Linked DNA regions of Homo sapiens. The protein of the gene in region 1 purifies or fractionates together with the protein of each later gene. This does not show direct contact. Each region holds a gene or a part of one and is shown in the gene's direction. Other genes may lie near its edges.

What was found.
Region 2: the proteins of PPAT (region 1) and G6PD purify together in Homo sapiens (affinity purification with mass spectrometry, with the first as the bait; one large-scale study listed by BioGRID). This does not show direct contact.
Region 3: the proteins of PPAT (region 1) and FAM114A1 fractionate together in Homo sapiens (co-fractionation; one large-scale study listed by BioGRID). This does not show direct contact.
Region 4: the proteins of PPAT (region 1) and PARVA fractionate together in Homo sapiens (co-fractionation; one large-scale study listed by BioGRID). This does not show direct contact.
Region 5: the proteins of PPAT (region 1) and FAM167A purify together in Homo sapiens (co-immunoprecipitation; one large-scale study listed by IntAct). This does not show direct contact.
Region 6: the proteins of PPAT (region 1) and SHMT1 fractionate together in Homo sapiens (co-fractionation; one large-scale study listed by BioGRID). This does not show direct contact.
Region 7: the proteins of PPAT (region 1) and PRPS2 fractionate together in Homo sapiens (co-fractionation; one large-scale study listed by BioGRID). This does not show direct contact.

Annotation. Positions count from the first base shown.
Region 1 is NC_000004.12:56,397,616-56,401,115, reverse strand, and holds part of PPAT (amidophosphoribosyltransferase), read left to right. Parts: intron 1-204; coding exon 205-332; intron 333-1,715; coding exon 1,716-1,937; intron 1,938-3,500. UniProt on the Homo sapiens protein: Catalyzes the formation of phosphoribosylamine from phosphoribosylpyrophosphate (PRPP) and glutamine.
Region 2 is NC_000023.11:154,536,847-154,540,346, reverse strand, and holds part of G6PD (glucose-6-phosphate 1-dehydrogenase), read left to right. Parts: intron 1-3,500. UniProt on the Homo sapiens protein: Catalyzes the rate-limiting step of the oxidative pentose-phosphate pathway, which represents a route for the dissimilation of carbohydrates besides glycolysis.
Region 3 is NC_000004.12:38,943,523-38,946,239, forward strand, and holds the end of FAM114A1 (protein NOXP20), read left to right. Parts: coding exon 1-35; 3' UTR 36-2,217; downstream 2,218-2,717. UniProt on the Homo sapiens protein: May play a role in neuronal cell development.
Region 4 is NC_000011.10:12,527,571-12,531,070, forward strand, and holds part of PARVA (alpha-parvin), read left to right. Parts: intron 1-278; coding exon 279-355; 3' UTR 356-3,500. UniProt on the Homo sapiens protein: Plays a role in sarcomere organization and in smooth muscle cell contraction. Required for normal development of the embryonic cardiovascular system, and for normal septation of the heart outflow tract.
Region 5 is NC_000008.11:11,425,254-11,428,753, reverse strand, and holds part of FAM167A (protein FAM167A), read left to right. Parts: intron 1-3,500.
Region 6 is NC_000017.11:18,329,962-18,332,550, reverse strand, and holds part of SHMT1 (serine hydroxymethyltransferase, cytosolic), read left to right. Parts: intron 1-1,879; coding exon 1,880-1,996; intron 1,997-2,589. UniProt on the Homo sapiens protein: Interconversion of serine and glycine.
Region 7 is NC_000023.11:12,794,412-12,797,911, forward strand, and holds part of PRPS2 (ribose-phosphate pyrophosphokinase 2), read left to right. Parts: intron 1-3,500. UniProt on the Homo sapiens protein: Catalyzes the synthesis of phosphoribosylpyrophosphate (PRPP) that is essential for nucleotide synthesis.

The DNA of each region.
Region 1 (3,500 bases):
TTTCTAGATCTATATGAAGGTCGATTTTTTTTTTAAAACCACACAGTTGAGTTCCCCAGTTTGTGTATTTTCACATTCATATTTTTGTATATATTGCATTTCTTTTTATACTCAATCTGTAGAATTCTAGCACTAGTTTTTTAGAATAACACTGTTATATCATGCTAAGTAAAAATACTCTCTCTCCTTTTCCAAACACACCAGACCAAATGGTTTATACAGTAAGATACCGTTGTGGCCAGCAGCTAGCGATTGAAGCACCTGTGGATGCAGATTTGGTTAGCACTGTTCCAGAATCTGCTACGCCTGCTGCTCTTGCTTACGCAGGAAAGGTATTTTCTCTTAATTAACATGCAGTGAATTGCTCTCCCAGCTGTGGAATAAGAAACCCTTGCCTATAAAGAGAAACTCATCAACATTTCTAAGGAGAAAGGAAGCTTTGGTGGTTAATGTTGGTTTGTTTACAAGCGTTTTTTATTTTCCAGGCTTTTTATCCAATGGCACTATTTTAGTGAAAACCACTAAAAGGTTCACTGAAAAGAAAAAAACGTTCACTAAAGCGTTCAGAAATTGGCACCCTTCTTTTTAAAAAGATAACATCATGAATATACAGTTGACCCTTGAACAATTTGGGAGTTAAAGGTGCCAACCCTCTGCACAGTCAAATCTGTGTATGCATTTTAATGCCCCCAAACTTAAATACTGATAACCTACTGTTGACTGGAAGCCTGACCAATAACATAAACAGTTGATTAACATATTTTGTATATGTATTATATGCTGTATTCTTGCAATAACGTAAGCTAGAGAAAAGTAAATGCTTTGAAGAAAATCATAAGGAGGAGAAAATATATTTACTATTCCTTATGTGAAAGTGGATCTTCATAAAGGTCTTCATCCTCATTGTTGTCTTCACGTTGAGTAGGCTGAGGAGGGAAGAGGAAAAGGGGCTGGACTTGCTGTCCCAGGGGTGGCAGAGATGGAAGAAAACCCACCTATAAGTAGACTCATGTACTTCAAACCCATGGTGTTCATCAACTATATATTCAGTGGAAAAATTTACTTAATATTAAAATAAACGTCTTGAATTATCTTCACAAGTCACTGGAATATTTGCTTGCTACTAAGTATGGGTAATAATAAAGCTGTTTATGTTCATTTAGCATGATGTTGTCAGTGTTACGCTTTATTTTCATAACCAGGTAGATGGTGTAACTGTAGTAATCCTGGGGTATAACATCCAATATTCACTACCTTGGATACTTTATTAACTTCTAAAAGAATTAATATGCATACATTTTAGAAAAGATTACCTTGATAAATGGGTTAATTACTTCCTATCCCTAAAAAGTATCTCATTGGTCTACTGGTTTTTATTTATTTATTTTAATTCATTTCTTTAAAAATTATCATTTTGATAATGAATTTTTCTGACAGTGATTTAATCTTTGTCATGTCTTCATATGCTTACTGTTATCTTTCAAAACAGAGGAATAATGTTTAAGACAAAAACATTATGAGTCCTCACAAAATGAATTGGTTTTTCCACCAAGTATATTTTGTTTAGTGGTTTTTCTTTTTGCCTTTTTTCCAAATAATAAAGGAAAATTATTTTGAAATTTTACTTGAATATTGTGGCGGCAACACAACCTAGAGAAAATATTTGCCTATTCTGTATATTACTCCTCATTATCCTTTCATTTCTTCTCTATCAGTGTGGACTTCCATATGTGGAGGTGCTGTGTAAAAACCGGTATGTAGGGAGAACCTTCATTCAGCCAAACATGAGGTTAAGACAACTTGGTGTTGCAAAAAAATTTGGAGTATTGTCAGACAACTTTAAAGGCAAAAGAATTGTTCTTGTAGATGATTCAATTGTCAGAGGCAATACCATCTCACCTATAATAAAACTGCTCAAAGAATCTGGTGCAAAAGAGGTAAGTAATATTAAAACATATCCTAAAGCATAAGTTAACAATAAGATACTGGCATAAAATTGCAATTCAGGGTAGTGAATCAAAATGGATGTTCAATATAATAAATTAACTTTTTTTATCAGTTTGGTTTAGGAATAACTGTGTAGCAACTTGAAGAACATGTCACAGCCACACTTACATTAAATGTAATCCTTAATAGATTAAAAAAGCTCAATATAAAAGCTTAAGGCTGGGCGAGGTAGCTCATGCCTGTAATCCCAGTACTTTGGGAGCCTGAGGTAGGAGGTTGCTTGAGCCCAGGAGTTCGAGAACAGCCTGGGCAATATAGTGAGACCCTGTCTCTACAAAAATAAAAGATAATAATAAAATTAAATTTTAAAAAACCTAAAATTTTTACAAAATTTATTCAAAGACTAACTACACAAAATAGGCTGGGCACAGTGACTCATGCCTATAATTCCAGCACTTTGGGAGGCTGAGGTGGGCAGATTGCTTGCATCCAGGAGTTCAAGACCAGCCTGGACGACATAGTGAAACTCACCTCTCCTAAAATTACAAAAAATGGGTGGGGCGTGGTGGCACACACCTGTAATTCCAGCTACTTAGGAGGCTGAGGTGGGAGGATGGCTTGAGCCCAGGAGGTAGAGATTGCAGTGAGCCGAAGTGATCTCAAAAAAAAAAAAGTCAAAAACACACAATAGAATGCTTTTTAAAATCAATGGAGTATTGATTGCTTTCTCTACTTGAAGACATGCAGCCAATCCCAGTGTAATACCTTTGACTTATTATTTTTTAAAATGTATTTGTTAAAGACAGTGTCTGGCTCTGTTGCCCAGGCTGGAGTGCTATGGCACCATCTCAACTCACTGCAACCTCTGCTTCTGGGGCTCAAGCAATCCTCCCACCTCAGCCTTCTGAATAGCTGCAACTATAGGCATGTGCCATTGCAGCCAGGCTAATTTTTGTATTTTTAGCAGAGACGGGGTTTCACCATGTTGCCCAGGTTGGTCTTGAGCTCCTGGACTCAGGTGATCCACCTGCCTCGGCCTCTCAAAGTGTTAGGATTACAGACGTGAGCCATCGTGCCCGGCCAAGTTATATTTTAATATCACTTTATGCCTTTTTTTCTTTTTTCCTTGATACTGGGACTCACTGTGTCACCTGGTTGGAATGCAGTGGTTCGATCTCAGCTTACTGCAACCTCCACCTCCTGGGCTCAAGAGATCCTCCCACTTCAGCCTCCCAAATAGCTGGGACCATAGGCACACACCACCATGCCCGGCTGATTTTTCGTATTTTTAGTAGAGGCAGGGTTTCACCATGTTGCCCATGCTGATCTCAAACTCCTGAGCTCAGGCCATCTGCCTGCCTCAGCCTCCCAAAGTGCTTGATTACAGGTGTGAGCCACCATACCCGGCCTCACTTTATGTCTTGAAAAAAATTTTTTTTTAATTTTTATTTTTTAAATTGACAAATGTATATATTTATTGTGTACATGTTTTTATATAGATATATTAAGTTATTTTAAGATTTCAAAGCTTATTCTATTTCAGTAGCTCATAC
Region 2 (3,500 bases), on another chromosome or scaffold:
CAGGCGCGCACCACCACATCCAGCTAATTTTTTGTATTTTAGTAGAAACGGGGTCTCACCATGTTGGCCAGGATGGTCTCAATCTCCTGACCTCGTGATCCACCCACCTCAACCTCCCAAAGTGCTAGGATTACAGGCATGAGCCACCGCGCCTGGCCTGTATTTTTAGTAGAGACGGGGTTTCACCATGTTTGCCAGGCTGGTCTCGAACTCCTGACCTCAGGTGATCCACCCTCCTCAGCCTCCCAAAGTGCTGGGGTTACAGGCATGAGCCACCACGCCCAGACTATTAGTTTTTACCATGTTTTATTGAAATATATGTCATGGGCCGGCCACGGTGGCTCACGCCTGTAATGCCAGCACTTTGGGAGGCCACGGCAGGTGGATCACAAGGTCAGGAGTTTGAGGCCAGCCTGGCCAACATGGCGAAACCCCATCTCTAGTAAAAATACAAAAATTAGCCGGGCGTGGTGGCAGGTGCCTGGAGTCCCAGCTACTCAGGAGGCTGAGGCAGGAGAATGGCTTGAACCCAGGAGGTGGAGATTTCAGTGAGCCAAGATCACGCCACTGCACTCCAGCCTGGCCGACAGAGTGAGACTCCGTCTCAAAAAAAAAAAGAAATACATGTCATGAAGAACACAGATGGTGCAGGTCTAGCTTGTTGATGACTTTTCACAAACTCAGCACAGCCACAGAAACTGCTCCTAGATCAAGAAACAGAATATGCTCTGCACCCAGGAAGCCCCCTCACCTGGGGCTCTCACAGTCACTGGCCCTCAAAGGGTCATTTCTGACCCACTCCCCACCCTCCGCTCCATTGTTGGTTTTCTCGCCGTCTTTTGTTGGTGCGCAAATCTTAACTGTACAATTGGCTGTACACCCTCATCACAATAAAGGCCATCGTCATCTCCCCAGAAAGTTCCTGGGTACCCATTCCCAGCCAATCTGCCCTGCTCCAGGCAACCGCTGATCTGATTTCTGTCACAATGGGTTGCATCTCTGATGCTGAGATTTCCCAGTGTTGCTGAGTAGTATCCGTTGTATGAATGCACAGTTTGCCGGGTCACATGTTAATTCAAGTGTTTGACTTGTTTCCAGTTTGGGGCCGCTATGAACCAAGGCTGCTGTGACCATTCGTGTGCAGGTCTTTGTGTGGACTTGCACTTTCATTTCTCTTGGGGTGGAACGGCCAGGTCACAGGATAGGTGTGTGTTTCACTTGATCAGAGGGAGCACCCGCACCACCTCACAGCTCAACTTCAGCCATTTTCATTTTCTTGCCTTACTGCACTTTTCTTGTTCCTGATTGCTTAAAGGGATGATTAATATTTCAGCATTTCCTATAAGTGTGATATTTGTAGTATTTGTAAGGATGATGGTTTGGGGGTTTTTTTGTTCTTTGTTTTTTGGTGGTGGTTTTTTTTTTTGAGACGACGTCTAGCTCTGTTGCTCAGGCTACAGTGGTGTGATCTCGGCTCACTCCAGTCTCTCCCTCCTGGTTCAAGCGATTCTCCTGCCTCAGTCTCCTGAATAGCTGGGATTACAGGCATACACCACCATGTTCAGCTAAGTTTTGTATTTTTAGTAGAAATGGGGTTTCACCATGTTGGTCAGGCTGGTCTCAAACTCCTGACCTCAAGCGATTCCCCGCCTCGGCCTCCCAAAGTGCTGGGATTACAGGCTTGAGCCACCACGCCCAGCCAGAATGGTGTTTTATAGATGCCCTTTATCAAGTTAGTGAAGTTCCCTTGCATTCCCCCTCTGCTAAGAGTTTTAGCGTGAATAGGTGATTTCTGAAACACTTGATCTACATCTGTTGGGTTGAGCAAGATTGCTAGATTTAAAAAATCAAAACATAGCAGTAGGCAGAGAGTTCTTAGAGGTTTTTTTTAATCTCTTAATATGGTGAATTTCAATGATTTTTTTCTGTTAATATCAAACCAACTTTTTATTTACAGATGTATTTATTCTGTAAATAAAAAACCTACCGTTTTTAACATTGCAGGATTTGGTTTGCTGATGTTTTCTTCTTTTTTTTTAAAGAGACAGGGTCAGTGGGTCGTCGTGGCTCACGCCTGTAATCCCAACACTTTGGGAGGCTGAGGCGGGCAGATCACTTGAGCCCAGGAGTTCAAGAGCAGCCTGGACAACATGGGGAAACCCTGTCTCTACAAAAAATACAAAAAATTAGCTGGGTGTGTTGGCATGTACCTGTAGTCCCAGCTACTCCAGAGGCTGAGGTGGGAGGATTGCTTGAGCCCAGAGGCAGAGGTTGCAGTGAACTGAGATCGTGCCACTGCACTCCAGCCTAGGTGACAGAGTGAGACCATGTCTTTAAAAAAAAAAAAAAAAAAAAACCTCCTGATTTCAAGCAATCTTCCTCCCACCTTGGTCTCCCAAAGTGCTGGGGTGTGTGAGTTGTGCCCGGCCTGCTGATATTTCGTGTGGGATTTCTGCATCTGCATGTGTGTGTGAATGAGGCGTATGGGTTTTCCCATGTGCCTTTCTCATCAGGTTTCCGTACCAAGGCTCTGTAGGCCCCATAAGGTGGCTTGGGAAGTGTTCCCCTTTCTTCCTTCTGCAGGAAGAGTTTGCTTCAGGCTGGAATTCTCTTGTGCTTGCATTTTGGTAGAACCCACTGGCAACACTCTCTATGCCAGGGGGTTGTTTCTGTAGGAAGATTTGTGGCCACTGTCCCCTCTCAGGTCCATTGCTCTGTTTTTTGTTTGTTTGAGACGGAGTTTCGCTTTTGTAGCCCAGGCTGGAGTGCAGTGGCTTGATCTTGGCTCACTGCAACCTCCGCCTCCCAGGTTCAAGCGATTCTCCTGCCTCAGCCTCCTGAGTAGCTGGGATTACAGGCATGGGCCACCATGCCCAGCCAATTTTGTATTTTTAGTAGAAACGGTTTCTCCATGTTGGTCAGGCTGGTCTTGAACTCCCGAACTCAGGTAATCCATCCGCCTCGGCCTTCCAAAGTGCTGGGATTATAGGCTTGAGCCACCGCGTCCAGCTGTTTAGTTGTTTTTTTGTTTTTTGTTTTTTGAGACGGAGTTTCACTCTTGTCGCCCAGGCTGGGGTGCAATGGTGCAATCTTGGCTCACTGCAACCTCCATCTCCCGGGTTCAAGTGATTCTCCTACCTCAGCCTTCCGAGTAGCTGGGACTACAGACACCCGCCACCACGCCTGGCTAATTTTTTGTATTTTTGGTAGAGGCGGGGTTTCACCGTGTCAGCCAGGATGGTCTCGATCTCCTGACCTCTTGATCCGCCTGCCTCGGCCTCTCAAAGTGCTGGGATTACAGGAGTAAGCCACTGTGCCCGGCCTATGCCCTTTTAAAAAAGCAACCATGCCAGGGGGTTGTCTGTTTCTATTCGTCTTTTTCAAACACCAATTTCCAGCTTTGTTCATCTTTTCTTTGGGTTAGCTTTTAATTTTATTAATTTTACTTGTCATTATTTCCTATTTTCTTCCTGGTAATTTGGCTTGCAGTTCTATCTTTT
Region 3 (2,717 bases), about 17 Mb from region 1:
ATATCCAGACCAGTTGTTTGAAAGCACAGCCGTGACCTGGCCAGACTCCATCTAGTTAAAGGAGACAGCTGGCCGCCTTGCCTCAATATGTACCATTTAAGGGGATGTTCTCTGTGCGCCTGGCCACAGACATCCATTTGAGGACACTACAAGCAATTTTGCACAGACAATATTGAGAATGCAAATTTAGAGAGAGTTATCATTTCTCTCAATGTGTATAATTGTTTTTACAAACAATTGTGTTTTCTTTATGTTAATTTAAACTTACACAGCTTATATTGAAAATTTCCTTTCATCTGAAATTTATTTACAAATATTCGTGTTCATTTTCCTGGTTAAGCATGCTATATTTAGAAACTCATGGGGAGACCTTAGACTTTTGTTTAATCCTTTATGTTTCAACCTTTAAATGTTCCATTCTTATAGTATTACTTTAAATCAATTCTAAAACTGAACTTTGTTTTGTTACATAAATGTCGCAGGCAAAAATAACACTACTTATAGATTTTACCTATTATGGTAAAAAATAGGAACATATTGTCATTCTTTTTTTTTTTTTTTTTTTGAGACAGAGTCTCACTCTGTCGCCAGGCTGGAGTGCGTTGGCACAATCTCGGCTCACTGCAACCTCCGCCTCCTGGGTTCAATCGATTCTCCTGCCTCAGCCTCCTGAGTAGCTGGGACTACAGGTGTGTGCCACCACGCCCAGCCAATTTTTTTTGTATTTTTAGTAGAGACAGGGTTTCACCATGTTGGCCAGGATGGTCTCGATCTCCTGACCTCGTGATCTGCCCGCCTCAGCCTCCCAAAGTGCTGGGATTACAGGCTTGAGCCACCGCGCCCGGCCGGTCATTCATTCTTGCAACAAGCATTTATTGAGCACCTACTGTGTGCTCACAGTAAAGAAACGTGATCTTATCCCAGTAGAGGTAGATATTCTGAAAAAGAATAATTCTTAAACTGCTTAAAACAGGGGTCCCCACCCCCAGGCCACAGACCAGTACCAGTCCGTGGCACTGGTTAGGAACCAGGCCACACAGCAGGGGGTGAGCGGTGGGTGAGTGAGCACAGCTTCATCTGTATTTACAGCTGCTCCCCAGAGCTTGCATTACTGCCTGAGCTCTGCCTCCCGTCAGGTCAGCAGCAGCATTAGAGTCTCATGGGAGTGCGAACCCTGTTGTGAACTGCACATGCGAGGGATCTAGGTTGTGCACTCCTTATGAGAATCTAATGCCTGATGAATCTAATGCCTCATGATCTGAGGTTGAATAGCTTCGTGCCGAAACCATCCCCCACCCCCATCCCGCTACCCCGAGTCCGTGAAAAAATTGTCTTCCATGAAACCGGTCCCTGGTACCAGAAAGGTTGGGGACCACTGGCTTAAAATACCAATAAATTTTTGAACCTTAAAAACTTTGAAGAACAAGGTAAATTGGTGTTTTATTTAATGTCCTACCCTTTAATTTGTTGCATTTTCCTATACTCTTTACACTATTTTATCCCAAACTATGTATATGAGGTGAAAATATATATGAAAAGGGATACTGAAGAATATTTAGTTTAAAATTAATTTCTTACGATCACGAGCACATGGTGGCATAATTACAAAGCTTGGAAGTATTCAAATAGAAAATCAAAGGTGTTTCAATACAGTAGAATCCCAGGACTGCATTTTAAAATCGCCTCACAGATCACACTCGCTGGTGGCAAATATCATCATCGTTGCTAAAGGACAGAAAATACTGATGTGTGTTTTAACTAACTGGTATATTGATCCATGGGAGGCTGCACAGAAGACCCTGCGGCCAGGAGGGGCATTGTCAGTGGCTGCTTCTCCTGAGCTCCACGCCTTCATTGCAGCTGCATGTTCGATACAATACACCTGCTTCACAGCCCCATGGACATCCCTACAGGTACTGTCATGTGAAGCCTTGCCTAGTAGTTCTCTCCAGGGCAAATGAAGCTCACAGTTTTGCAAGGTGGAAACCTCTTATTCACATTTGCTTTGATTCCCCGATGGAGTAGACTGCCTTTGTTCCATACAGGCAAAGTAAGGATATTTTAATATCATCCTACTTCTTATTAGCATTTCATTTGTCTATGTACTGTATTTCATTTGTATGTCTCCTGAAACATCCAAATAGAGAACATAAGAACACTTTATGTACAATCTGGAAAAAAATTACCTGAGAAATCAATTAAAGATTTTTCCCCTTTTCTGATTGCCAGAAATGTTTTTATTAAGTCTAGAGAATGATTAACTGATGAAAATGTTGCATTTACCTCTTCATCAATTTTAGACTTTTTATGTGTAGGGCAGAGGAAATGATATAGATTTACAATTTCTTCACATCAGTTTTTTGTTGTTTTTTGTTGTTTTGTTTTTTGCATCAGATGGGTTTAGATATTAAGTGGAAATGTAAAAGAGAAACAAGTGGCAGGGCTCAGTGGCTCACACCTGTAATCCCAGCACTTTGGGAGGCTGAGGTGGGCGGATTACCTGAGGTCAGGAGTTCGAGAGCAGCCTGGCAGACATGGTAAAACCCTGTCTCCACTAAAAATACAAAAAAATTAGCCGGATGTGGTGGGTCGCGCCTGTAGTCCCAGCTACTCGGGAGGCTGAGGCAGGAGAATCGTTTGAGCCTGGCTGGCAGAGGTTGCAGTGAGCCAAGATACACCACTGCACTCCAGTCTGGGCGGCAGAGGGAGATCCCGTC
Region 4 (3,500 bases), on another chromosome or scaffold:
TTGGTTCTATGATGGAGGTTGGAGGCAGTGGGCAAAGAGCCCCTGGGACAGGTGGGGATTGTGGGGAGGGTCAGGCCTTCTTATCTGGAGATGCTGTGCCCCAGCACCTCTACCCTCACTGCCCCCTGCTCTGAATTCTCGCTGCCCACTCTACCCATCTGCCCCGAACATGCTGGGTACATGGGATTGGGTGGTGGGTGGAAGGGAGGGGCAGTGTATGCCAGCTTTGGAACATGTGGCCCCATGGAAACAATTGGTGTTTTTTGTTTTCTACGCAGACATAGTCAACTGTGACCTGAAATCTACACTACGAGTGTTGTACAACCTCTTCACCAAGTACCGTAACGTGGAGTGAGGGGCTGCCCTGGGCCCACCACTGCCCAAGAGTTCTTGCTGTTGGCGTACTGGACCCTCCTCCGAACTGCCTTACCCTGCTTATTCCTGTCTCTTGCACTGTGCTCTCCCACAAGTCCAGCTGCAACCCAGAGATAGTGGAAACTGAAATTAGGAAGGAAATCATCAATAACTCAGTGGGCTGACCCATCCCTCCCAGGCGCTGGGGACCAACCTAGCAATGAAGGTTGGGAAGGTTGTTCCCTTCCCGGTGCCAGGTCCAGATTTCCCTCCATGATTTGGGAACCAGCTTAGGCAAAAGAGTCCCCACAAGATGAAAATAAAGATCCTAGTTACCATTCAAAGGATGCTAACTGTGTGTCAGGCCCCACACTAAGTGCTCTGCTCTGATATACTCAAGGCCATTAATCTTCAGGACTCCCATTGACGTAGGTGTTTCATTCCCCTTTTACAGATGAGGAAACTAAGGCTTGGAGGTTAAATGACTTGCCAGAAGTTGGAATTTTTTTCCTCTTTGAACATAACCTCTCCCTTCTCCCTAAAGGTAACCACTATTCTGAGTCCAATCATCAAGGTTTTGCTTTTCTTTTTAGCTAAGTATGCATTCCTCAATAGTAGACAGTACAACATGTTTATAACAAGCCAATTACATTATGTTCTTTGCATGTTCTAAAGTTGTGTATGTGTGTGCACATCTGAGCACGTGCACATGTACACCTGAGCCAAAAACACGAGAACCCACTGATCTCACCACTGGGGCAAGCTAGGTCAGAGCTTAGTGATTCACACTGAAATTGGCAAATTGGATTTAACCCAATTAATAGTGTGTGTGTGGCAGGAGTCATGTCCCTCACATCCTTTGTACAAATGAAAATTACTCTTAATTCCTTCAGATTTATAATAACTCTGTACTTTGGTTTCAGGGTGACATTTGGGAAGGATTTTGTTTAGAATTAATGGAGTGGCACATTTTGCAGCCTTTTTGCTTGATTGCATGTAATGGAAATGCCCTATATTTTCCTGCAAAATAAGTACTAAATTCATTATCGTTAAGCAAATGTACAATATGCTCAGGCACCGCAGAGAGCTGGGCACGGGCCCATGTGAGCATCACTTTGGAAGTAGGGCTCTTCAACAGGGACCCTTGAACTTTAAAGAAAGGAACTTCTTTTTGCCTTCTAATTGATCATTTAGACTATTCTGGCTAAGTCTGCCCACATGTAATTACCGGCTAATTCAAGCGAGGAAAAATGTAAGTCATTTAGACCAAAGCCAAGCAGTTTCTTTGCGTGGGTTACTCAAGGGCTTGTGGTTACTTGTATCTCCTCTATGTGAACTTGACTTTGAAAGACAGAGCTCTAGTGTGCCAGCCTGCTAAGTCCTGTAAGAATAGGGAAGGGCGGAGGGGGGTGGGCAGTGACTAGGGGACGAGAAGCATGGGGAAAATATTTGCACTCTAAACATACAGAGATAGAGGTGGGGCTTGTGGTACTTAACACTTGTAGCCATCAACTGACTGAGACCTTGGGCTAAATAATCAATTGTGCTGATATTACATCTCGTTATGGAATGTTCCTAAATATGCCAGGTAGACACCAGCCCAAGTACCCTCCTCCAGAAGTCTGTGACTACCTTGTCACTACTTTAGGCCCATTCCACAAAGCCCATCTCTGGTTTGAGAATTCATTTTGATCTGTATCTACACCACCCAAAGTTAGGCCTCCTATAATGTCCAAAACATTCCTTTCAGCCTTTTTATTTCTTACTGTACTGTCTCTTACTGTACTGTCTATCTGCAGTAATTGAGGACCCATAAAATTTAGATAACTACATGTCTTTGCTCTTAGAATTGTCACTCAGCATAATGAGCATTTAACATACAAAGGCAATGTACTGTTTTGTGTTGATCTATGTAAAAGAATACAATTCTTTTTTACATAATTAGTGAAATTTTATTTTTTATTAGGAAACACTAAATAGTGTAATATTTCTTTTGCTTTTAAAAAAATTCCTGGTAGCAAATCAAGATAAATAATTGCTTCATTTTCTTGAGCAATACTGAAGCAGGATGAAGTAAGAGGAATGCATTCATTTAAACATGCTTTGCTTTATGAATTTTGTCTCTTTTTTGGTCTCTTTTTCTTATATTCAAGTTACAAATGTACAAGTATCCTTACTAAGAGTGCTCCTTTTGTATTTTACATATATACAGTATGAAAATACATTGGAACACTAGGAAAGTTTTTAAATAACAGTTCTAATTTATCAGAAAATTGTGTTTTGGGATTGAGTTCTTTGTCTCAGCCCAGAATCCCAGGTCCTGGGCCTGGTTTTCTAATGCTGTCATCTCAGTTCGATATTTTACTTTAGAACCTGGAATCTCCTACTTAATATATGACCATGACTTTGAAAGGCAAAAGAGGAATCAAGAATAAATAAAACAAACTTAATCTTCATCTTTAAAAAAAAGAAAAAAGAAACCAAAATGAGAATCAACACTTCATAGGCTCACTGGGTTTTCTTTTCTTTTCTGTTAATTTAAACTCAGTTATTTTTAATGCTTAATACATACATGGTGCAAAATTTAAAAAGCGCAAATAGGTATCTAGTGGAAAACCTAAGCCTCCCTCTCTCCTCCGGCACCCATTACCTCTCCCTGGAGGCAACTGTTTTGATCCATTTCTTACACACACTGCCAGAGATACTCTAGGCATGTAAAGCACAAACATACATATAAAATCTGCGGGCTTCAAAAAATATAAGTAGGATGTCATCTATACTGTCATACACTTTGTTTTTTATCACTTAATGTTATATCTTGGATATTGTATTACCCTGGGTATTAAAAAGAACTCCTTTCACATTTTAAAATAACAATCTGAGCACTTCATAAATCCAAATGCGTATCTCCAGTCTGCTCGAGCTAGGAAAGGAAAAAAGCCCTAGCCGAAGGAGGAAAGGCTGCCTAGACAATGATTTCAAAAGTAGAGTCTAAAACCTATGGGGTGCAGGACCAGAGGCTGGGGCACATTATCAGAGGCATCCTCATGTGCCTCGAACCGAATGTTTTTAAGTCCTCTTTTGGAACCTTATGGTGAATTGTATGCAGATTGATGAAGGTTTCATTTTTATATATTACCAGGACT
Region 5 (3,500 bases), on another chromosome or scaffold:
GCACAGCCAGGGCTCCCGCATCACGGGGACAAACCCTGTTCTTTGGGGCAGGAGATGAATTTGTTGATTTGTGTGCAGGGATCCCAACACACTATGTATTGTGAGCATCTAAATGTGAGAACCCATAGTGCATCCTAGCGAGATGCTCACGCTGTGAGATGCCCTCAGAACCAAAGCCCACTGAGGAAGTTGCAATTCCCAGCCCCCTCCTCATGTTCTCTCAGAGCGCAAGCAGGGAGACCGGCCGGAATCACCATCCCTGTTGAAGCTGCAGCTTTCTTTCTCTTTTCACCCTTACGCAGAATTGAATGCATGTGCACAGCATGGGCGTGCGAGGCAACGCCATCCAGGCGGCCTTTGTCCAGTCCATGGAAACTGACACAGGCCTTACTGTCAGCCCTCTTTCTAGCTGCCTCTGATGGGTCTTAAAGAGTAAATTGTTCTCTGACCTTTGACCAGATCTGTCAGCCACAGAAAAACAGCCCCTTCCTTCCTGCTACCCCACAGAGATGTGTCCGCCACAGCCTGCGTCTCACAGATAGTCTTAGACACCTGGCCACACCCCAAATTCCCCGACTTCAAAGGATCTTTTCACACCAAAGATGCAATTCCTGGGGCCAAAGCTCAAATCTTAAACCATAGGGTTCCTAGTTTTTCAAAAAGATCTATTGTCAAATTACAGAACACTCCAAAGAGAAGTGACAGATGACTGTACTAAGGCAATGGGTGTTCGCAGACAATATCTTTCAGGCAGGTTTGACCCCCATCTCCTCAGAAGGGTTTAGGTAGCACCTAGCTCCGTTCCAGGCTCAGTGAGGGACACCATTACAAAACAAATGACCAGCCACCCTATCATCATTAATTTGGTGCTATTCTAGGTCAATAGAATTTAATTAGCAATAAATTTGAGTTTCTTCAATGCTTGAGGCCCAAGGATTGAAAAGTAAACTAATGAATGTGGCTATGAACTTTAATCCCAATTTTGCCATTAGATACCTTGCTGACTCCCAAGCAAGACTTTCTATCTTGATTTTTCTTATATATGAAATCAGGAGAAAAGAGATCTGTACAAGTGCATAAAAAACGAGAGAGGAAAAAAAGAACATTGAGATGCTCGCTGGCAAGGTCACTTAATTTTTCTACCCTGCAATGTGCTCTATTATAAACCTAACAGGGAGAAAGTGAGAACACTGCCTTCATTTGCATAACTACAGGGCATCTCAGGGCTCATTTTTCTAATCAGTTTGGCTCCAGGCACCAGGTAAATGGCACAGCCGAGCATGTCGCAGAAATACTAAATAACCACTTACAAGTGGAGACAGAGGAAATAGTGAGAAGGATTCAGATCTCGAGTCAAGTAGGAGCAGCTGGCAACCTGTCCCAGTGACAAAGTGCTGCTTACAGAAGGCGCTCTGCACTAAGCCAGTCCCTATGTACCATGTCACAACTGAGAAACCAGCCCTCTGAGCTCCAGCTAGCATGCTGGCTGGTAAAATATGGAGCCAGACTGTCCTGCTGGTACCTCAGGAGTGGCTGTGAGGCCCATCAAGGTTAAACATGAGCAGAAAATACATCTCAGGACTCCACAATCACTAAGCCAAAGGGAAAAGTCAAGCTGGGAACTGCATCAGGCAAAGCTGCCTCCCATTTTATTTCTAGATAAGATAGCTGCAAAGACAAAACCTACATACCTCCCTCACAATTGGCCCACAAAGAACTTCCGTGTTGGGCCCCCAGACCTGTACCCTAAAACAGTTCTGTTGAATTTCACCCTGGCAATGTAAATTGACATCTGATCTTCTCAGGTGCGGGACAAAGGACAAAACTCAAAGTCATCCCTCTGCTCGCCTGAGACGAATGCATACCTGATTGCTTCACGTGCCTTGTGTTTATGTTATCTTCTATAAAAATGCAGATTCAGTGAGCCAGACTAAGACACAAGTGACTTTTCCTCTACCCTAAACAAACATGTAAATTGTGTATTCGGTTGATCAAAGACTGATCAACCAAAGGCTGATCAAAGACCCAAAAGAATGCAATCGTTTGTCTCTTATCTACCTACACCTTTAAAAAATTTCTTCCTCTTCCCCCAGTATCCACTCCTTCCCCTTTAAATATTAAGGCCCTCAAAATCATCTTTGAGGAAAGGCATAGACCTGCCTCCCAGGTGTGCATCCTTAACGTCGGCAAAATAAACTTTCTAAATTGTTGACACCTGTCTCAGACACTTTTGGTTTACAGTGGGTTTGGGAAACTGGGAGTGTGAAGCCAGGTGAGAAATAATTATCACATCTCTTTGTTAACAGAAGAAAACAAACTCTGTAAAATACTTAAAGAGGTTTATTCTGAGCCAGTGTAAGTGACCATGGGCCAGGGAACAGTCTCATGAGGTCCTGAGAAAGCTCGCCCTAGGTGGTCCAGTTACTGTTTGGTTTTACACATTTCAGAGAGACAGGAGTTACAAGCAAAGACATAACTCAATACACAGAAGGTATACCTTGGTTCAGCCTAAACAGGTGGGATATCTTGAAGGGGCTTGGAGGGTGGGGGTGCTTACAGGTCTTAGGTAGATTCAAAGATATTTTTATTGCCAGTTGATTGAAAGAGTTAAGTTTTGCCTAAAGACTTGAAGTCAGTAGAAAGAAATGCTTAAGACAAAGGACAGTTGTGGAGGCCAAGGTTCTTGTTATGTAGATGAAGCCTCCAGGTAGAAGCCTTTAGAGAAAATAGATGGTAAATATCTCTTTTCAGACCTTAAATTTGCCAGACTCTCATTTAATCTCTCCTAGATCTTGGAAAGGCCTAGAAAGGGAAGGCTTGATTGCATTAATGGAAATGCTCTACAGATGTAAGTATCTCCCACAAGAGATGGTTTTGCAGGGCCATTTCAAAATATGTCAAAGAAATATACTTCAGGGTAAAATATTTTTATTTTCTTCAGGGTTTGCTACCTGTTATGTGACGCTATACCAGAGGCAGGAATTTGCTACCTTACTGCCACAAAGAGTCTGTTTTGTCAGTCTTATATCTCTATTTCAATGTTAATGCCGATCTGCTGTGCCTAAACTCCAACAGCAAGGGGGGGTATAACAAAGCATGTCTGAACTCCATTCCCATCACGGCTGGGAATTCAGTTTTCAGGCTTCTCTGGGGTCCTCTTGATGAAGAGCGGGCTTGTTCAGTCAGTTGGGGGGCTTAGGATTTTACCTTGTGTTTACACATCAATAGGAAACATCAAGCCACTAAAAATATTAGGAACCTTCTACAAGGTCACTAAGCACTCTGCTAGCTCCATACACCACACTGCAGCTCGTCCTTGAGCAGCAGAACTTCATTGTCAGTCATTTTGGTTCTGGAGTCCAGCTGTCCGGCTTCCTCATCCCAGCTCGGCTGTGGATGAGCTTTGTGAGCCGACACAGCTAATTCCCTGGCTGTGCCTCTGTGTCCTCCTCTATAAGCTGTGGGTGATGATGGTGACATCACTTCACAGGTTGTAGTGA
Region 6 (2,589 bases), on another chromosome or scaffold:
TCCTCCGGAGGAAGGGCGACTTTATACCTAGTCCCACAAGACTGCCGATTGTGCTAGCAGTGGTGTGGTCCAGGAATATGGGTCCTGCTGTGTGTAGACCTGAGTGCCCACTCTCTGCACCGTGTCCTTTGCCCTTTACAGGGATTACAGGCCCTCTGATCTAAGGATTGGGGAGGGATTACAGGCCTCCTGGTCTAAGGAGTGGGGCTCCCACCCAATCCTGCATGTGCGGCAGTGCCTGGGAAGGCCGGGCCAGTGCTGTCTCCTCAGCAGTACCAGCCGTACCCTCTTTTATGTTCTACTTCACTTACTTTCTGTTCTCCCTTCATCCTCCATGTCTTCAAATAATAAAGCTCAAGAAGTCCTCGTGCAGACTGTGAACTTCAGGGTGCTTTAGCTCAGGAGTCCCCAACCTCCGGGCCACGGACTAGTACTGGTTTGTGGTCTGTTAGGAACCTGGCCGCACAGCAGGAAGTGAGCTGGGCCGAGAGCATTGCCACCTGAGCTCCGCCTCCTGTCAGATCAGTGGCAGCATTAGATTCTCAGAGGAGCTGAACGCTGGTTTGAACTGCACATGTGAGGGATCTAGGTTGGGCCTAGACACTTTCAAGAAACTATCTTTTTTTTCCTTCTGATTATACCTGCATCCTTATGAGAATCTAATGCCCGATGATCTGAGGTGGAAGTTTCATCCCAAAACCATCCCCCGATGCCATCCGTGAAAAAACTGTCTTCCACATAACCAGTTCCTGGTGCCAAAAAGGTTGGGGACCACTGCTTTAGGTCCCTGTTTCTTAAACTTCAATGTGCACACCACCCCTGGGGCTGTTGGTGCAATGCAGATTCTGACCAGGCCTTGGGTGATGCTGGTCTGGGAGCCACCCTTGGAGTTGTGAGGGTTTAGGCCATAGTCCCTGTCACCATGGGCATCTCATGGCATGGGCCTGCCCTCTCCCTGGTGACTGTGTCATTGTCACTCTGCCATCTGAGGACCCGATGCACATGGCTGAGACAGATAATGCTTGCAAATGCCCTCTTTGGTGCCTGGTGCTATGAGAAGCACTATGTCCAGTATCTTACTTAAACTTCATGACAGCCCTGTGAATTATTGGTCTTTTTGTTACAAATGGGCATCTGAGGTTTCACAATGTTGAGCTGCCTGCCTAAAGCCACACGGCAAGTGGGTGGGCACAGCTGGGGGGCTGCAAAGCCAAGCTGGAGCCCTAGCTCACCCGCATCTTGAAAGGGATCCCCGCAACACAGCTCAGAAGCAGAGGCCCCAGTGCTGTCAGCACCCAAGGCACTACCCCAGCTTAATGAAGGTTCAAAGTGGAAGGATCCTCCTGTATGACCTCGGGCCAGGTCCAGAAAACTCTGTTAGCCTTGCTGTTGTCACCTTACCACTTTGATAATACCATCAGCCTCACAGGATCCGGGAAAAACCTACCACAGGCTACAGTGTCTGGCACCTAATGTGCTCTGTGAACATGCCCCTTACCCCCCAAAGTAAATTGAACTGCTGCCCAATATTCATGCTGCCTTCAGGGGAGCCTTTACCATCAATGTTAGGGAATTGCCCAAGCAACTTGTCAGAGAAAACAAGCCAGGAGCAGCCTGAGGAAGCTGTCCCTTCCCCATGGGAGTGTCAGGCCCTCTGCTGTATGATCAGTTACCCCTTTCAAAAGTGCTCTGTCCTTCCTTTCACATTCTTAGGCACGGGCATCTCTCGTGGGGATTAGAATCCCAGGCCATGTGGTGGGGGTGCTCACCTTCCTGACCTCATCTGCTTTGACTGCCTTCATCCTCGCCTTCGTTTCTCAGAGATTCCTTCACGGCATAGAATTCGCCTGCATTTCTACATGTCCAACTTTGTTTCCAGGTGGTTCTGACAACCATTTGATCCTTGTGGATCTCCGTTCCAAAGGCACAGATGGTGGAAGGGCTGAGAAGGTGCTAGAAGCCTGTTCTATTGCCTGCAACAAGAACACCTGTCCAGGTGAGAATCATCCTTGCCTTCTCCTTCACTCCTCTCCCATCTGCATTTCTTCTGGCCAAAGTTGTAGCTGATGAATATATTGGCTCCGGGGACAGACCTCACATAAAAACTGTAGTGGGGGCTGGGCACGGTGGCTCACGCCTGTAATCCCGGCACTTTGGGAGGCCGAGGCAGGCGGATCACTTGAGGTCAGGAATTCGAGACCAGCCTGGCCAAAATGGTGAAATCCTGTCTCTACTAAAAATAGAAGAATTAGCTGGGCATGGTGGTGCATGCCCGTAATCCCAGCTACTTGGAAGGCTGAGGCAGAAGAGTCGCTTGAACCCGGGAGGCAGAGGTTGCAGTGAGTGGAGATTGTACCACTGCACTCCAGCCTTAGCAACAGAATGAGACTCTGTCTAAAAAAAAAAAAACTGGGCCAGGTGCAGTGGTTCACACCTGTAATCCCAGCACTTTGGGAGGCCGAGGTGGGTGGATCACGAGGTCAGGAGATTGAGAAGGCTAACGCGGTGAAACCCTGTCTCTACTAAAAATGCTGTGGTGGCACACACCACGGTCCCAGCTACTCAGGAGGCTGAGGCAGAAGAATTGCT
Region 7 (3,500 bases), on another chromosome or scaffold:
TTAAGGACTGGGCTTGCAAGTTGGTGTATCATAATTTCTGTCATATGCTGTTGGGCAAGTACAGAGCCCTCTCAGATTCAAGGGCGGGAGACTAGACCCTGCTCCTTGATGGGAAATGTGTTAAGAGTCTGTGGCTATCTTTTAGTTACCATGCCCGTTTATTGTTGAGTCAGTGACGCTCTTCAGCGTTTTTATTTGGGGGTCAATAAAGATCCTCTGGCAGAATGGCAAATGGATGCTGCCTTCTAGCCACAATTTTTTAAAGACCTAGAATAAAGGTAGTCATGATCATCTTTTTGAGTAGAAGCAGGACTAGCTTTAGGGGAAAAGTTGCCATGGTGATGATATTCTCTGTCCTCCCCTGGACTGCTAGTCATATGAGAACTGAGGTTCCTGAGTAAAAACAGGCCAAAGAATCTAATCTTGTGGGATAAACGTCATAAGACCAGGAGTTGGCAAAGTTTTTCTGCAAAGGGCCAAATCGTAAATATTTTAGGCAGTGCTAGCACATGTAGTCTCTGTTGCTGCGGTATCTTACAGTTCTGTAAGTTACGGTAATGTCTGTCACAGGTTAGCAGGGCTGTATTCTCTTCTGAGGCTCTAGGGGAGAATCTGTTCCCGTGCCTTTTCCGGTTTCCAGAGGCAGCCCACATTCCTTCACTATTGGCCTCTTCACCTTCAATGTCAGCAACAAAATGTTGCTCTGACCCTGCTTCTGCTGTCTCCCTCTTGCATTTTTAAGGGCCCCATGATTACAATGGGCCAATTTAAATAATCCAGGATAATTTCCCCATGTTAAGGTCAGCTGATGAGCAACCTGAATGCTATCTGCAAATTTACTTCCCCTTTGCCATATAAACTCACATATTCAAAGGATTAGGATGTAGACATCTTTAGGGGGCCATTATTCTGCCTACCACGCCATTCTTAACTCACAGGCCATAGAAAAACAGCCTATGTGCTGTGTTTTGTCAACCTCTCAGCTATATAATACTGTACTTGATTTCTGCTGTAGTTCATTTTGTGCTGCTATAACAGAATACCAGAGACTGGCTAATTTATAAACAATAGAAATTTGTTTCTCACAGGTCTGGAGGCTGGGAAGTCCAATACTGAGGGGCTGGCATCTGGCAAGGGCTTTCTTGCTGCATCATCCCATGGCAGAAGGGTGGAAGGGCAAGAGAGCATATTTGAGAGAGAGCAATAGAGGGCCAAATTTGCTAATATAATAAACCCATTCTCAAGATAATGAGCACACTCTAGCAATGATGACGTTAATCCGTTTGTGAGGACAGAGCCCTTATGACCTAATCACCTCTTAAAGGTCTCACCTGTCAATACTCCTATACTGGGGATTAAGCTTTCAACACATGAACTTTAGGGAACACATTTAAACCATAGCAATTTCCAAATTAAGTTTATGTCATAGTTGATGTAGTGTTCACAAAGCAGTTAGATTTAGCTCCTTAGATCTTCAAATAGGAGGGAGCACATAGAACTCTTTCTATCCCCCTCATCCTGTGAGGTTGGCATATTTTCATCCATAGTAGAAGGCGTGCAAGAAGATGTGTGAATGTTATCAAAACTAATTTTCACAACATGTCAACTTGAAAAACTTTATTTTTATTTTCCTTTTCTTTAAAATTTTTTTTAGAGACGGGGTCTTGCTATGTTGCCCAGGCTGGACTAGAACTCCTGGGCTCAAACAATCCCCTTGCCTCAGTCTCCCAAGTAGCTGGGACTGTGGGCATGAGCCACCATGCCCAGCCTGTTTTTAAATTTTCATTAGGTATAATTGGCTCTTTTTTTTTTTTTTTTTTTTTTTTGAGACAGAGTTTCACTTTTGTTGCCCAGGCTGGAGTGCAATGGTGCGATCCCAGCTCACTGCAAGCTCCGCCTCCCGGGTTCAAGTGATTCTCCTGCCTCAGCCTCCCGAGTAGCTGGGATTACAGGCATGCACCACCACACCTGGCTAATTTTGTATTTTTTAGTAGAGATGGGGTTTCTCCATGTTAGGCTGGTCTAGAACTCCAGACCTCAGGTGATCAGCCCACCTTGGCCTCTCAAAGTGCTGGGATTACAGGCGTGAGCCACCGCGCCCAGCCTTAATTGGCTCTTTTAAGAAAACAATTTCATTGAGTATCTGATAGCAGGAGAAGAGAGAAGGATAATTATTCATGTTCCTTATTTGTAATTTTAAAATATTTCATTTTGGGATGAATAAATTTACAGACAATTCTGCCATAATGTGACATATGTATTCCTAAAAATTACCACGCTATGCAAAATCAGGCAATCCAAAACCACAGGGCTTATGAGAAAAATGGGGTTAGGGACATAACATTCAAAAACTTCCTCAGTGACCCATTAAAAAATCATAGGAATGTTATATAGATTGAGCATCCCTTATCAGAAATGCCTGGGACAACAAGTATTTCAGATTTTTTTTTTTTTTTTTTTTTTTTTTGCATTTTGGAATATTTCTATTGTACTTACTGGTTGGACATTCCAAATCTCCAAAAATCCAAAATCCACAATGCTCCAATGACCATTTCCTTTGAGCATGATGTCGACACTCAGAAAGTTTCGGATTTCAGAATTTCGGATTAGGGTTCCTATCAAAATGGTAAAACACTGACATGTATTACATGCTCAAAAAATACTGGCTGGGTGCAATGGCTCACGTCTGTAATCCCAGCACTTTGGGAGGCTGAGGTGGGCGGATCACTTGAGGTCAGGAGTTCAAAACCAGCCTGGCCAACATGGCAAAACCTCCCTCCACTAAAAATACAACAAATTAGCCAGGCGTGGTGGTGCATGCCTGTAATCCGAGCTACTCGGGAGGCTGAGGCAGGATAATCACTTGAACCTGGGTGGCAGAGGTCGGAGTGAGCTGAGATGTCACCACTGCCCTCCAGCCTGGGCAACAGAGTGAGACTCTGTCTTTAAAAAAAAAAAAAAAATTACATAAATATTATGACAGAGATGGAACTTTCCATTGAAAAATGCCTGAGGTTTAGGGTTCTCTGAAATGACATGAAAAGTTGTGACACCAAATGTGAATGAGTGTGGCTCATTGTCCTCGAGGTGTGTACATGTGTATGTTTGTGTATTTCTAAGTGGCTCCATTCAGCTGGGTACACTGCAGTTTTCTGCAGTCTCGGGATAAGAGGTTGTGCATAAGAAAACATGAAATTCATGCTATGCTCAAATTGTTCCAAATAATATCAATCATTGGAACAAATTTGCCTTTTCAAAACATAGCAGAGCTGACCATCTTCTTGGTTTGGACGCAGAGCTCTGGGAAGGACATGCCTGAGCACACAGCACTATTTTCTGTTTCTTCCCACCAAAGGAATATGCCAGGGATGAGCTGGCTCTCCCTCTCATGTTGGACATCCAGAATTCTGTACCTGGAAATACAGAAACTTCCAGACATGCAATTTTCAAAAACTTAGCTGCTATTTACTCTTTCTCCAGAAGCTACGCAAGGATGCCAA